Linked DNA regions of Homo sapiens: all the other regions are linked to region 1. Evidence: fine-mapped expression QTL. A gene starts in region 1. Each other region holds a variant in brackets. All regions are shown on one strand. Distances are between the middles of the regions.

Region 1 (5,238 bases):
TTGTGGATCTGGAAGGGGAAGTCAGGGGTGGGGGCAGGATTCTTAGGCCCAGCGCTGCCGCCCCCCAGAAAGGTGGAGGCCGTGTCCACCAGGCGATAGTGCAGCCGGGCGTTCTCTCCAGAGTCCGCGTCCACCGCCTGAATGTGCACCACGGGGTAGCCCAGGGGCACATTCTCCAGCACCGTGGCCTGGAAGGGGCTGCTCACAAAGATAGGCTCGTTGTCGTTGACATCCAGCACCTGCACAGACACCACCCCTGAAGAATTGATGAGCGGGGGCCGGCCCCCATCCTGGGCCTTAATGCTCAGCGAGTATTTCTGGACATCCTCGAAATCCAAGGGGTTGATCACATCCAGGATCCCGCTCAGCGAGTGCAGGTAGAACTGGCCGGCCACGTTCCCGCTGAGGATGCTGTAGTGAATGGCCGCGTTCTGGCCCTGGTCCCGGTCCGTGGCCTGCACTCGCAGCACAGCCGTGTTGAGCCCCACGTCCTCGGGCACCTGGACCACGTAGTTCTGCTCGCTGAACTGGGGGTAGTTGTCGTTCTCGTCCTCCACCTCGATGTACACGGTGGCCGTGGCACTGAGCGGGCCCGGATTGCGCCCCTGGTCGTTGGCCTCCACCAGGAGCTGGTACTCGGCCGCCTCCTCCCGGTCCAGCACCGCCCGTGTGCTCACCACGCCAGAGCTCTCGTTGAGCTGGAAGACGTCCCACGCGCCCCCCAACACGCGGTAACGCAAGTTGGCGTTGATGGGCGAGTCGCGGTCGCTGGCGCGGATGGTCAGCACCTCGTAGCCCACCTCCAGGTTCTCCCGCACGCGCTCGCGGTACTCCGACTGCTCGAAGACCGGGCTGTGGTCGTTGGTGTCTTTGACCAAGACAGTGATGTAGGTGGTGGCCGAGCGCGGCGGCGTACTGTAGTCCACGGCTTTCACCCTGAGGACGTGCGTCTCCTTGGTCTCGCGGTCCAGTACGCTGTCCGTGCTCACGGCGCCCGTGGCAGAGTCGATTCGGAAGTAGCCCCGGGAGCGCTCGTCGAACAGCCCCTCCATGTAATAGCTCACGCGCTCCTCCTCGCCCTCGATGGTGTAGTGCGCGTGCAGCTGGAGGATGAGGGTGCCCGCCGGTTCGTTCTCAAACAACGCCACCTGGTAGTTGGGCATCGGAAACTTCAGGCTCCCTCTGCCGCTCGTGCCCCGCCGGGCCCGTCGCGCCGGCCCCGCCCGGGCTTCGGGCAAGTTCGGCGGCAGGGGCGGCGATGGGGATGGCGACGCGGAGGGCGTCCCCGCGGTGGCGGCCTCCAGCGCCAGTCCCACCCGGACGGCGCCAGCCGCGCGCCGCAGGGCGCACAGCAGACGCAGGCGGACCGAGCCGCCCGGCGGCAGGCAGATGGGACGGCCGGGACAGCGGGGCCTGGGGCGCGGCGGGCAGCGGCAGGCGGGTAAGGTGGTCGGAGCTGCGAGCGCCGAATGCTGCGCGGCCGCGCAGCCGCCGGGGACGGGGAAGCAGAGCGCCCCGCAGAGCCGGGCACCGGTTCCGCAGAGCCGGGCACGGGCTCCGCAGCCGGGAAGGTGCGTGCGCGCCCGCAGGCGGCGGCTCAGCGCCGTCGGGGCACTGCGGGCCACCAAGCGGACTTGCAGCGGCAGCGGGCGCCCCGCGCCCGAGACGCGCCGACGTCCTGCCAGCCGCCCATCGCGGCCCACGTCCAGCAGCTCCCGCGGCGCCCGGGGCGTGCAAGCGGCGCCCACCGCGTAGGTACAGCCGGGCCGGAGGGCGAAGGCGCGGGTCCCGCCGGGTACGCGCGGCTCCCAGGCGGCCGCTCGCAGCCCCATCGCCGGCAGGGCGGCGGCGGCGGCCAGGAGCAGCAGCACGGGCAGCACGGGCGGCGGCGGCGGCGCCATGGCCCGGAGCCCGAGCCCGAGCCGGGCGCCCGAACACAATCCATGCACCCGGCGCGCCTCCGCATCCACCCGGCGAGGCCGGGGAGCGGCTCCCGGGCGCCCGGCCCTCGGGGCGGTCCGCGTCCCGCCTCCCCGGGGGCCCTGGCGGGGACTGTGGGGACCACGCGCCCGGCCTCCCCCGCAGCTTCCACTTCGAGAGCACTTTGCGAAAGTTTGCGAAGTTGGTTTCAAGATGGCTCCTCCGCGCGTCCCGGGAGGGCGCCGCGCATCAACCTGCGGCGGCGGCGGCGGCTCCAGGCGGCTCCAGGTGGCTCCGGCGCGGGCTCGGCCGGACGGGCGTGGGAAGCGGGGCGGGCCCGGCGCGGGGCGGGGGCTGAGTTCCCGGAGCGGGCTGGGCAGCTCCGCGCCGCGCAGACCCCGGCGGCCGGCTGCTGCCTGGGCGGTGCGCTTGGCCCGCGCCCACTCCGCCCGCGCTCTCCCCGCCCCCGGCCCGGCCCCGCCCCGCCCCCGGCCCAGCGGCGTATTGTTCGGCCCCGGGGGGAGCCGGCTCGGAGGTGCGCGCCGAGAGGATCGCTATGGAGACGCGAGGGCGCGGCCGGGACGGGGACTGGGGCCCTACTCCCCGGAGGCCTCCCCACCCAGCCTCCCGGTGGGGCGGGGCCGAGGCAACAGGGCCGGGAAAGGTGGGGCTGGGGCCCCCGGTGGCCGCTACCCGTGGGGCGGTGGCTCCGCACCTCGGGCTCGGGGCCGCGGCTCAGAGCCTGGCTCCCCACCCCGGCAGAACAGATCCACGGAGACCGCCGCCAGGAGTGCCGCGCGGGTAGGACCCGGGGGCGGAGGACTGGGGCCGAGAGGCCGGGGAGCCCCCCCCCACCCATTAAGGACTGCGGAGGCTGTCGAGGAGGGTTACCCATTTTACAGCAAGACGCACGGAGGCTAAAATGCTTCACCCCGACTAAAACTCCCTGGACTTTGAAGCCCAATAGGCAGCTACCGGATCTGCGTCCCACTTGGTTTAAAGCGCAACTTTTAAATGAAAGAAGAAAACCCCGGTTGACATAAGGGATTTGGAGAGGACGGCGGAGGCGCGCTCATCTCCCGCGTGCGGCCCGACCCGAGCGTTCGCGGACGCATCGCGGAATCCCCGAGCGTCCGGCTCCTCCCGAAGCGGGTTGCGGGGAAGGCGGGGGGCTGCGGGTCCTGGAAGCTGCCTGGGGCAAGCAAGCACCCGCAGGGATTTAGAGCTGTGCCACAGCCCCTGCCCAGCCTCCTACGGAGGACAGCGGGGGGCGGGGGGCAGAGACCTTAGAGCTTTCAGAAAAGTGACACACACCCCCGCCTCCTGCGGGGAACCACGGGGGGCCGGGGGCAGCTTTAGGTTTGCGTGACGGGTACACCTGCCTCCGGATGGGGCACAGGGATAAAGGGGGTGGAGGCTTAGGACTTGGCGACCCCCCGCATGGGCGGGGCTTTGGGACTGTGCCACCAGCGGCTGGGAAGGGCGCGCACTCCCTTGGTGGCGCTCGGGGCGCCGGAGTCCAGTGCAGCCCTTAGGCCTCCCAGTGGTCGGGGACGGTAGGTGGGGGTCGCCTCTTCTCTCCTAGAAGGGCTTCTCCTGGGGCCGGTCGGAGCGGTGGGGGTGGGAGTAATGCGCAGTCACCCCTAGAACGGGTCTTTTTGGCAAGGGAGGGTCGGATCCTGCAGCCAAATCTCTGAGCTGAGCTGAGATGAGTCCAGTCTCAACGAGGACCGTGGGCGGCTGTGGAGAACCGGAAGGGTTTCTCCCCCGGAGCGATGTGTCTGTGTGTGTGTCACACGCATACTCAGCCAACTTCGCTCAAAGCTGCTGAAACAGTGTCTTTGTGCTGAAGCCCAATGTGAGCATTTTCTTCCCAGTAGCAAGGATTTGAACACGTTATATTGATCTAAAAGGTGGAGTTGCTTTGGAACCTTTTAATTCGAGGTTTCCACTGGAGAGTCCTGTTGGGAAATGTGTGTGTGGAGGGAGGGGAGGAAGGAGAAAAGTCCGTCTCCTTAATGTGAGCGGTCCAGGACCTCCCCACCCGCCATATACCCTTCCACTGGGATTTTTCCGGGAAGGATGAAAGGACAGGAGTTCTGGGGCCGGAAGGCAGGGCGGGTCCCTGAGCCCGGAGCCTCCCAGTGGAAGGCTACTGGGCGGACCTGAAGGGGACCCAGGCAGGAGGAAAAACCAGAGAACCCCAGGAGTGCCTGTTTTGCAATAAGGCTTTAAGCAGAGTGGGTTGGGTTTAAATAAACAAAACTCAGCTGCAGCCAGTGGGTTCAGGTGTGGGCCTGCTTTTCTGGAATAAGGCACCTGCAGGCTGCGAGGTAACCACAGGGACTGCCCAACACCTAGGGACAGGGGAGGATGGATGAATCTCACTAACAGGATGTCCAGCAAAGACAAAAGATCATTCCATTCACGCTTAGACCGACAGCAAGCCCGACTCCACCATAACGTTTAGAGGTGTGCACAAATAGGGGAAAGATGAAGAAAAACAAGGAGGTGATTATGGGCACATTCAGGAGGGCTCTGGGGGAGGAGGGGCATCCCCTTCTGGACCTGAGGGTTACCAGAGTGTCGGCTTCATGATCACACTTTGAACTCCAAACACATGATTTGCGTACTTTTCCCTATGCCTGCATCTAGAGTCGGCAGTTTTTGTTTTTTTTTGTTTTGTTTTGTTTTGTTTTGTTTTGTTTTTTTGAGACAGAGTTTCACTGTTGTTGCCCAGGCTGGAGTGCAATGGCACGATCTCAGCTTACCACAACCTCCGCCTTCCAGGTTCAAGCAATTCTGCCTCAGCCTCCCTAGTAGCTGGGATTACAGGCGTGCGCCTCACGCCCGGCTAATTTTGTATTTTCAGTAGAGACGGGGTTTCTCCATGTTGGTCAGGCTGGTCTCGAACTCCCAACCTCGTGATCCGCCCACCTCGGCCTCCCAAAGTGCTGGGATTACAGGCATGAGCCACCGTGCCTGGCCTATTTTTATTTATTGCTAAATAGAGATGGGGTCTTGCTATGTTGCCTAGGTTGATCTCAAACTTCTGGGCTCAAGAGATCCTCCCACTTCAGCCTCTCAAAGTGCTAGGATTACAGGTATGAGCCACCACACCCTATTTAGAGTCCACAGTTTTATTTTATTTTACTTTATTTATTTTTGAGACGGAGTTTTGCTCTCTCACCTAGGCTGGAGGACAGTGGCGCGATCTCAGCTCAATGCAACCTCCACCTCCTGGGTTCAAGCAATTCTCCTGCCTCAGCCTCCAGAGTAGCTGGGATTATAGGCACACACCACCAGTCCTGACTAATG
Region 2 (5,238 bases), 23 kb before region 1:
GGATGTCCTTCATGCTGCCTCCGAGAAACGCAGCAAGTCATTCAGGTTCTGGGGTCCTGAAGTGCCCCGAGCCCACCCCCAGATCCCAGCCCAGTGGCCCCCACGCTGCCAGGAGCTCTCAGTGTGGCAAACACAGCAGCAGCAAGAGTGACGGCGGCGCTCATAAGCCCTTACTAAGCGTGCTGCCCTCGAGGGCTCACAGCTAGGGGCAGGTGTCCCGGATTTGCAGAGGAGGACCAAGAAGCACTCAGGGACTGAGGTGTCAGCCCCCAAATCAAGGTCCAATACTGGCCAGGTGCGGTGGCACATGCCTGTAATCCCAGCACTTTGGGAGGCCAAGGCAGGCGGATCACATGAGGTCAGGAGATCGAGACCATCCTGGCCAATATGGTGAAACCCCATCTCTACTAAAATACAAAAAAATTAGCCCGGTGTGGTGGTGTACACCTATAATCCCAGCTACGTAGAAGGCTGAGGCACGAGAATTGCTTGAACCCGGGAGGCGGAGGTTTCAGTGAGCCGAGATCACACCACTGCACTCCAGCCTGGGTGAAAGAGTGAGACTCCATCTCAACAACAACAAAAAATCAAGGCCCAATACTATGCATTGCCTTGACATCTGCTGAAGCCAGGAGGCCTCAAATGGCCTCACCACAGGTCCCCCGCCCCACTCTGCTCCTTCGGATAAGATCCCTCCACAGTCAACCCTTCTTGTCACGGGGATCAGGCACAGCTCCTGCTTATAGAGGGTAGCGGGTTTCCGTTCCCTGCCATCCAGAGGAATTATTCAGACAAGCTACCCATGTGCCCCTGCAAGAACCAGGGGCCCCCCACCCTCTTGTTCCTTCCGGGTCCGGGCTTGTCCCCCACAGCACCTGGCTGTCCTCTGCTCCTGAGTGCTGCCCCGGGTGGCCCCGCATGGCAGGCGACGTCCTCCTCCAGGCTGGGCCTCTGTGCTACTCACGCACTGCTGCTGACCTCATCTGTCCAGTGTCAGGTGCTCAGCAATCCCCATCATCCTAGGACGGGAATCCATCCCTCCCCAGTGGAGTGAATAGGAGGCCATTTAACCAGTGAGTGACTTCTGGGGCGAGATTCAAACCCGCGACCACCATCACGGGCGCCTCTCAAAATCACGCGACTGGGGACAATACACCTGGGGACTAGGCCATGTGGGCTCAACGCTGCTGCAGTGAGCCAGAACACATGAAGGAAACACTCAAGGAAAGGCGGTATCCAACTACGGCCTTTATTCCTCTACTATCAGGCAACACAGGGAAGAGTGTTCATGATCACGAGAGGCAACATGGCCTGTAAGTGTGCAAGAGGATTAAAAATACAAGTTCAAAAGCATTCCCCACGTGGGGTCCTGAGTTTTACAGGACACTTAAACCAGCCCACATACCTGACCATACCAAGAAGTCCAATGCAGTCACACAAAAACATGTACACTAAAAGGGAGGCAATCCAACACACTTCAAGTTGCAACTTGAGTATTTCAAGCAATATTCTCAACCATAAAATCTTAGGAGCCAAGATCAATGTGGGGAGGCCTTAGGTTTACCATAATGAGACACTGCCTGTACACTGTTATAATTGGCCCTTATCTCGTGCACCAGGGATAGGAGTCCCAGCCCTGCAGTGTGCACTTCCTACGGGCAGCAACACTTCTGTTTACTCCGTCACTACATCCCCAGAGCCAACACTCACCTGCGCAGAGAGCCTCCTAATAAATACTGGTTGGAATATGGCCCAGAAGCTCAAAGCCATAGATAAGTTTATTAATACTTTTTGTTGTTGTTGTTGTTTTGAGACGGAGTCTTGCTCTGTCGCCCAGGCTGGAGTGCAGTGGCACAATCTCAGCTCACTGCAGCCTCTGCCTCCCGGGGTTCACGCCATTCTCCTGCCTCAGCCCCCCCCGAGTAGCTGGGACTACAGGTGCACGCATCCACACCCAGCTAATTTTTGTATTCTTAGTAGAGACGGGGTCTCACCTTGTTGGCCAGGATGGTCTCGATCTCCTGACCTCATGATCCACCCGCCTCACCCTCCCAAAGTGCTGGTATTACAGGCACGAGCCACCGCACCCGGCCCTCATTTGTAATTTTTCACAGCTCTTTACTTGTCTTGTCTACACTTTTCTCACATCCCAGCACCCACCTGGGAAAGGTTCCTGGGGTCAGAATCATCTGACCTTGACTGTGGGTCTTTCCCACCCAGGTAGGCTCCAACACCAGGGGAATCCCACCCAGTCCTCGAGATGACAGTGTCAAAAACCCAGTAAGCGAGACTACTCACAATGGAGCCGGCATTTCTGAAGGGTGATTATTTAAGCCACACCTCAACTGCGGGCCTATGTGATGCTGAAGCTCTTCCACCCAGACGTTTCACCAGGCCCCGACGGTCCATCCAGGTGAGGGCTGGAGTCAGGTCCACCTGCACTCTGATCCCCGGGGGCCCAAGGCCACACACCTCTGGCTGCCAGTCAGTCAGAACCAGTCCTGGTGAGGTGGGGAGTGGGGGCATGAAGGATGTGGCCTGAGGACACCCCAACAGCATCTGTGTATCACCGCCAGACCCTTGCTGAAAGTCAGGGATAATGCAATGGCCCCTCTCAGCACCTCCCCAGACCTCCCCAGACTCTGTGGTCCCTCCTCCCAGCATCAAAGAGAAGAGTCACTCCCCGGAGGGAGCCGGGGCTGCAGGGCCGAGGCTCACGGCTGGGCTCTGGAATAAGAGGGGTGTTTCTGAATGAATTGCCCAGCCCTGTCCTGCCTCGCTGAGTCATTCCCAAGTCAGCAAGCACAAGTCACTGCGGGAAAAGCTCTGG[A/G]GCTGCCACCCCTTCCCACCCCAGGGATGCCTGTCCGTACCCGCCGTCAATCCAGCCCTCAGGCCTGGGGGATGAGCACCTCAGACGTGCTCTTTGCAGCTGGCATCCGCTCCAAACTCCATGCCTCCCCACAAAAGTGGCTCTGTCCAAACCCCAGCCCTCTTGGGCCCTGGCAACCAGCCTAGTCCTCGCCAGCCCCTTCTAGAAAGCACCCCCAGCACCCCCTCAGCTTCAGCCTGGGCTGAGAAAAGGCTGTCTGGCAGCGTGGACCCCCCTCAGCGTCCCAGCAGAGCCAACCCCCCCCGGGGACACTCATGGGACACAGCATGGGCAGTAGGAGCCATTCCACCCGTGCATCAGCCCTCTGGCCACACTCTGGGACCTCATGGCCCTGCCCACCACTCCCAGCCCACAGCCAGGCAAGTGACCCCCACCTGGGCCCTCCTGGGGAGAGCTGCACAGCTGTCGGCAGCACAGCTGGAACCACAGCCCAGCGGTCTCAGTGCGTATCACAAAGGCTAGCTTGTGAGTGGATGCTCCCAAGTCACATGACCCCCAGGTAGGAAGGTTTGCACATGTTTCATCAGGGTAAAGGGAAAGAGGCTCACCTTAAACACAAACTCTATGAAGGCCTTAGACAGAAAATAGGAAAGCATGACAGTCTGTGTCTCCATGGTGAAGTCAGCTCTGGGAGGGCTGAGCCTGATGCAGAGTGGGTGTGCACAAGCTGCAGGGCACCCCGGGGGCTGGAGGTGGAGGACACAGCCAATAGGACGGGCCTCAGTCACACAGTGCTCAGGGCTGGGGACTCAAAGGCACAGAGGCTGAGGCTTTGTAAGTCCTGCTGGGGGATCAGGGGATGACTAAGTCACTGGGGCCTCCCCAGCCTGGCAGGCTCCTATCTGTGTAACAGGCTCCCAGCAGCCAGTGTAGGAAGGCAGCCCCGGCAGGAGGATACACCAGGACATTCCGCCCATCCTGCAGATCTCCAGCACTGACCAGCATCCACAGCACAGTCGACTGGGGTTAAGAAAGTAGGAATGAGTTCAGAGAAATGCAAATCAAAACCACAATGAGATATCATCTCACACCAGTTACAATGGCGATCATTAAAAAGTCAGGAAACAACAGGTACTGGAGAGAATGTGGAGAAACAGGAACACTTTTACACTGTTGGTGGGACTGCAAACTAGTTGAACCATTGTGGAAGACAGTGTGGCGATTCCTCAAGGATCTAGAAGTAGAAATACCATTTGACCCAGCCATCCCATTACTGGGTATATACCCAAAGGATTATAAATCATGCTGCTATAAAGACACATGCACACGTATGTTTATTGCGGCACTACTCACAATAGCAAAGACTTGGAACCAACCCAAATGTCCACCAATGATAGACTGGATTAAGAAAATGTGGCACATATACACCATGGAATACTATGCAGCCATAAAAAATGATGAGTTCATGTCCTTTGTAAGGACATGGATGAAGCTGGAAACCATCATTCTCAGCAAACTATCGCAAGGACAAAAAACCAAACACCGCATGTTCTCACTCATAGGTGGGAACTGAACAATGAGAACACTTGGACACAGGAAGGGAAACATCACACACCGGGGCCTGTTGTGGGGTTGGGGGAGTGGGGAGGGATAGCACACCGGTTTTGGGGGGTTTTTTAAAATTTTTTTTTATAGACACAGGGTCTCGCCATGTTGCCCAGGCCGGTCTTGAACTCCTGGCCTCAAGCAAGCCTCCTGCCTCGCCTCCCAAAGTGCTTGGGATTAGAAGCATGAGCCACCACACCTGGCCAGGACATACTTTTCAAAGCTCATTTGCTGCCACCTTGACACCTCCCAGGTAATTTCCTCGACCAGCTCATGTTATGTGGCTCCTCCGGCCCAACGGACCACAAAGTCCATTCCCTCCACTTCTCACCCAGGCACACGACTCTCTCAGGACACAGGCAACACCCTATGTTGTGCCAGGCAGGAAGCTGCGGGGTGGGGACTGGCAGGAAGGCAGGCGGCCGAGGGCTGTCCCCTCACCCTCCCTCCCCGTTTCCCACTGCAGCTGACCCCCACTGACCCATGCCCAGAATCCCACCTAAACCAGTGTCACGGCTGGCAAAGCCATGGGATGCCCTTTTCGTGTTTTAAAGCAAAGGAACCTTTATCACCCATAAGGGATGAGCTGGGCTCATCCACTTCCTGAGGCTGGTGACTCTGGGGGAAGAATCCAGAGGGTCTGGCTCTGGCCAGGGCAGGTTCTCACCCCAATGGATCATTCCCCTGAGGTATACAAACCACCTCCCCATCCCCCACTGCCTCAGTTTTCCCAGCTGCAGAGCATGGAGCTGCCAGGTGCAAGTTTGGCCCCTGAAGGGGCTTGGCCCATTTTCCCACTGCTC
Region 3 (5,169 bases), 170 kb before region 1:
AGCTTCTCCCGGAGCCGGCCCTTCAGCGTCTGCTCCGTCAGCGTCAGCGGCGGCGGGTAGGTGACTTTATTTTTCAAGATGCCTGGGAGGAGGAGACACGGCAAGGTCAAGTCCGGGTGATGCTGCCGGGGGCAGCTGCTGGGCCGTGTGCAGCTGAGCCAGCCTCAGCCCCTGTCCTTCCTCCTGGTTCCCCGGGTCCCAGGGCTAGGCCAGGAGGCCACGTCTGTTCTGCCCAGGCCCTGACTTGCCCCACCAGCCCCAGCCCCACTCCCACCTCCAGACCAGGGACTGGCCCTTCTGGGTCCTCCAGCCTTTCACTGCAGCCCCGGCCTCCCCAGGCACCTTTCCTCTGCTCTGGGGGCTGGCTGCTAGCAAGCCTGGCTGCGCCCCCGCTCTCCTGGTCCGGGGGGTACTCTCCACGGTGACTGCCCTGCTCCTCGCGGTGCAGCTCCACGCTGACCTTGGTCTCCACCTTCAGGCGGGGCTTGCCGCTGGGGTCCTCACTGTCACTCTCAGCCAGGCTCTGGTCGGGCCAGCCGGCCGGAACGTGGTTGGCCACAGCGTCCCCTGAGGCACGAGAGCGGTGCTCAGCAGGCAGCGGCACTGCCACTCGAGCTGCTCCCTTGAGAGCCATGGGTCTGGTGGCTCTGACCCACCTCTCCCCAACCTGCAGGCCTGGTAGGGCTGAACCCTAAAGGTGGGGAAACTGAGGCCCAGGAGGGCGAGTCCTGGCAGCAGGGCCCTTGTTGGGAGCCCCCGCCGCATCTGTACCAGTAACTATACAGGCTAATCCCCCACTGGCAGCCTCACCTGGACCTTGCGGTGACAGTCCACAGAGACCCCCCTGAGAGTTCCTGCCTCCGCTCAGGGGGTTGGCCTGGAGGAGCCCTCCAGAGGCTGTGGGGGAGCCCAACCAGAGTCCCCCCACCCCAGGCTGTCCTTTCATGTGGCTGCAGTGCTGCTGGGCATATCCTGGGAGGAAGGGACCCAGCCATAGCCAAGGCCTGCCCCGAGCCCGCTGTCCACAGCCCAGCCTGGCCCAATGTGCCCCACACACTCACCTTTGGGGGTGCTGTGGACGGCGCCCCTGGCCGGGTCCCATTTTTCCTCAGCTCCCACCCCATCGTCCTCGCTGTCTGACGAGTGTGAGGAGGCGTAAGAGCTGCTCTGCTCATCCAGGGACAGCTCGCTATCTGAGTCGGAATCGTGGCCTGTGGATGCGCGGGGGACAGGGAGGCTCAGGCCCTGGGAGGTGAGGGAGTCCCACCGAGGGCCAAGCAGAGCCACTGGGCCCCTGGCATGCTGACGCTGAGCATGGCGAGGCTGCTAGTGCTTCTTCAGGGGCAGTCTGTCCAGTGACCGAAGGGACGTGGGAAAAACAACCCACGGGGTCCTCCCCCTCCAGGGAAGCCATACCAGGGGGATCCTTGCAGCTCCTGGGCATGAGGGACGCGTCTGGCTCTCCGTGGCTGCCCCTCACCAGCCCAGAGGACACGCCGAGCTTCTGGATCCCTTCATCCCTAGAGAGGCCAGGGAGGGTGGGCTCAGTATCATCCGTCAGGGAACAGGAGGTGCTGGAAAGTTCTCTGGAAGATTCTCTGCCCCTACCCCTTCTGTGTTCCCAACAACAGCACAGACAAAACAGCCTCCCGAGTATGTGGGGGAAAGGTGGTGGGGGGAAAGGTTGGGTGGGGGGAAGGTGGTGGGTGGAAAGGTTGGGTGGGGGAAGGTGGTGGGGGGAAAGGTTGGGTGGGGGAAGGTGGTGGGGGGAAAGGCTGGGTGGGGGAAAGGTGGTGGGGGGAAAGGCTGGGGGGGAAGGTGGTGGGGGGAAAGGTTGGGGGGAAGGTGCTGGGGGAAAGGTTGGGGGGAAAGGTTGTCAGGGGAAAGGTGGAGGGGGAAGGTGGAGGGGGGAAGGCTGCGGGGGGAAGGTGCAGTGCGGGGAAGGTGCGGGGGGGAAGGTTGCACGGGAAAAGGTTGGTTGGGGGAAGTTGGTGGGGGAAAGGTTGTTGGGGGAAGGTGCAGGGGAAGGGAAGGTGCGAGGCGGGGAGGGAAGGTGCGGGGCAGGGAGGGAAGTTGCGGGTGGGAAGAAGGTGCGGGTGGAAAGTTGGGGGTGGAAGGTGATGTTGGTTGAATGGCAGGACACAGGTTGGGGTGGCAGGGGCAAAACCTGAGGGAGTTCGAGAGCCACCTCCCCGAACCCGGAGCTGCGGCCTGACCTGACGATGCTGTCCAGCGAGGCGGTGGACTCGCCCAAGTCTGTGCGCAGCATGTCAGGCCCGTCACCGAAGGTGGTGTTGCAGTTGAGGGAGCGCTGAAGGGAGGGGAGGGGCTGGTCACTGCCAAGTGGTGGCCACCACATGACCACCACGGGGAATGACTCTGTCCCCACGGCAAGCCCCCCACACCCACACCCTGGCTGGGCCCCTGCCTGGCACACAGGAGGAGCTGGCCCCAAGCAGTCAACCCTCACTGCAAACGAGAGCCTCCTGGCAGCTGAGGGAAGCACATCCTGGCCCGCGCTGTGGTCAGGGGCTGCCGCCCTCCCTACGGCCACTGCTTCTGGTCAGGATCCTCGGTGGTCCTGACCCTCTCTTTCTAAGGCCTGGAAGAGCAGGGTTAGGATGCGACCCAGGCCCCATCTGGCCGATTCTGTCACTTTCTGGTTCTGACGCGGCAGCCACACCGTGCACCGCGGGCGGCTCTGCCATCCCCACCGTGAGGGGCATACGGGCCGCAGGACTGGGGCTGAGGCTCGATCACCCTCCCCCGCCCCTCGAGATGCCGCCCAGCCCCCAGTCCCGCGGTGTCCCCGGCGCCTCCTACCGTCAGCAGGGTGGCCCTGGTGGTGGCGGAGTCCTCCAGGTGCAGCTTCCTCCCGCCGAGCACGCCCTTCAGGTGCTTCCGGACCTCCTGGTTGAGCACGCAGTGGAAAAGGAGGACGAAGGGGCCCTGGAGGGAGGAAGGTGGGGTCAGCACCTGCTGCTGCCTCCCTAGGCACCTGCCCTTAGGCGCCCCAGCACAGATGCG[C/G]ATACAGCCTTGAGTGCACACAACATGTCCGGCCACACGGCCCAGGACACGGCCAGGCCTCCCCTCCTCAGGGACTGCTGCTATCTGGAGGCCAGGTGGGGGAGCTCAGAAACTGAGATGCCTGGGCCAGACCCCCGGTGTGCTGGAGGCAGTGAGGGCCCCGGCTCAGGCCAGTCTTCTGGGCACTCCTTCCACAGTCCTTGGGGCCCCTCTGGGGTCCCCACTGTGTCGTAAGTCCACTTGCTGTGTGGCCCTTGGTATGACTAGAAATGGCCACTTCTGTTCCCTGGAGACACAAGTGGACTTGTGCTGGCCTGGCACTAGGGTCATCGTCCCCAGACACAGTGGGGAGGAGGCACCAGCCCCCGTGCCGGCTGCACAAGGGACTGAGTCCTCACAGCCACAGGAGGCCCCCACGCGGGACCCAGGCAGGGCTGGTTTGGGACCGCAGAGGCCTCCACTGCTTCGCATCACAGCGATGGTGTCACGGCGGCCAGGCAGGGGTCCCGCGGGCAACTCGGCCGTCACCTACCTGTAAGCCGCTGAAGATGGCGAAGAGGTAGTGAAAGCTCAGTGCATCGCGGTTCACAGCCAGCAGCCCCAGCAGCCAGGTGGCGCTGATGAGCAGCAGCAGGAGGAATGCGGTCCTCAGCAGGGAGCTGCGGGAGGGCAGGATCAGGCCTGTGCCCATCGCCACCACCTGCTCCCTTCCTCCCTCCCTCTCTGCACGTCCACCTGTCCACCTGCCTGCCCGTCCGCCCATCTATCTGTCCGTCCACCTGTCCACCCAGCCATCATCCACCTTGCTCCCTTCCTCCCCTCGTAGCCAGGTACGGACTCATCCGGGAACCAGACAGAGCTCGTGTTAGTGGGGGTGGTGGTGGAATACATTAGGAAGCAAATGAGAAAACAGGAGCTGTGAGGACTACACCAGGCCAAGGGGCCTGAGCCATGCCCATGGCTGCACTAGCTCCCGTGAGATACCCTGTGGAGAGGCAAGAGGAAGAGCCCAGGACCTGCCCTTGAGCTGTGACCCTGCAATCAGCTTCCTGAGCTCTGCCTCAGTCTCCCCATGTGTACAAGGGGAAGACAAAGGCGCATCCCCTCCCAGGGTTCAGAGGGGATGGAGTGAATCCGGGTGACAGAGCCCGCAAGGTCCACAGGTCGTGGATGGCACTGAAGACGAGGAACTGACAAGGCCCCAGACCCCCCGTGCACCCCCATATCCGGCCTTCCAGGCCACTCACTGCCTCTCCCTCTCTGCCCTACCCCCCTTCAGACTCGGCTCTCTCCTCCCGGGCCGGGAGCCTCACACTCCTCCTGACACCCAGCCCCTGCGCAAGCATTATCCCTTCGCCCATCCCTGGCTCAGTCCCATCTCAGCTACCAGGTCACCAGGGGCTGGCCTTGTTGTCTGACAGATGCCCCCGTCAACCCCTCCTGACCCTGTCGTGGCTCCTGGACGCTGTGCTGAGTCCTCCCGCGGTGCCACCTGCTCCTTTGGGGCCTCGAAGGTCCCCTCTCCTCCCTAGAACACTGGAGGTTCCCTCTGTGCTGGGCCCCTGTTCCACTGCACCCTCTGACAGTGGGGTGGGGGGGTCTCCTCCCCTCCAGTGGCCTCAGCAACACCCTCACCACCCACCAGAAAGTTTCATCTCCCCCACCCCACCCATCTCCACTCTGGGGATTCCAGACAGCCCAATACTTCTGTGCCAGGCGGGAGGGACTGAGGCCCAGGACTGGCTGCCAGCCCCCTCCCTTCAGCTAACCTCCTCCAGCCCCCTCCCCTCAGCTAACCTCCCCCAGCCCCTGCAGGTGCAACGTGGCAAACCTCTCTGGAGCCCTGGGGCTCACCCAGGCTGCCCCCAGCCCTCCTCCATGAGGCCTACACGCTCTCATGGGGCCCCACCCCGCAGAGACTGGACGTCGGGGTCTCAGGGCCCAGCCGACATGGCTGGCCGGTCAGGTTCAGCCCCACTTACACGATCCCTTTTTTCCCATAATAATGGTGCTTTCTTTGGCAGGAAACCTTTGCAGATAGGACAGAAGTGACTGTGTTGATCTGAAAACAAAACAAGCCGATCAATGTCTTCTCTCTCGTCACTGCAGACCTCCAACTGCCAAAAGCGCCTGAGGCCCTTC

The links.
Region 2: its variant is fine-mapped to the expression of CELSR1 in unexposed skin (GTEx, PIP 0.93). The same link has a PIP of 0.9 or more in sun-exposed skin.
Region 3: its variant is fine-mapped to the expression of CELSR1 in whole blood (TOPMed, PIP above 0.99). The same link has a PIP of 0.9 or more in blood mononuclear cells.

What each region holds. Positions count from the first base shown.
Region 1 is chr22:46,535,270-46,540,507 of GRCh38, forward strand. It overlaps CELSR1 (cadherin EGF LAG seven-pass G-type receptor 1), which reads right to left and starts at 2,351. Exons shown (of 35, transcript NM_001378328.1): 1 at 1-2,351. The coding sequence starts at 1,901.
Region 2 is chr22:46,512,000-46,517,237 of GRCh38, forward strand. All of the region lies in intron 1 of CELSR1 (cadherin EGF LAG seven-pass G-type receptor 1), which reads right to left. Among named protein-coding and RNA genes, the nearest start is that of CELSR1, 23 kb to the right of the region's middle. RefSeq lists enhancers at 2,272-3,188, 5,137-5,238. The variant A/G (reference allele first, on the strand shown) is at 2,831.
Region 3 is chr22:46,364,170-46,369,338 of GRCh38, forward strand. CELSR1 (cadherin EGF LAG seven-pass G-type receptor 1) reads right to left here. Exons shown (of 35, transcript NM_001378328.1): 27 at 5,010-5,089; 28 at 3,560-3,686; 29 at 2,824-2,949; 30 at 2,217-2,311; 31 at 1,417-1,520; 32 at 1,062-1,211; 33 at 343-567; 34 at 1-82. Among named protein-coding and RNA genes, the nearest start is that of TRMU, 31 kb to the left of the region's middle. RefSeq lists an enhancer at 3,737-3,796. The variant C/G (reference allele first, on the strand shown) is at 3,028.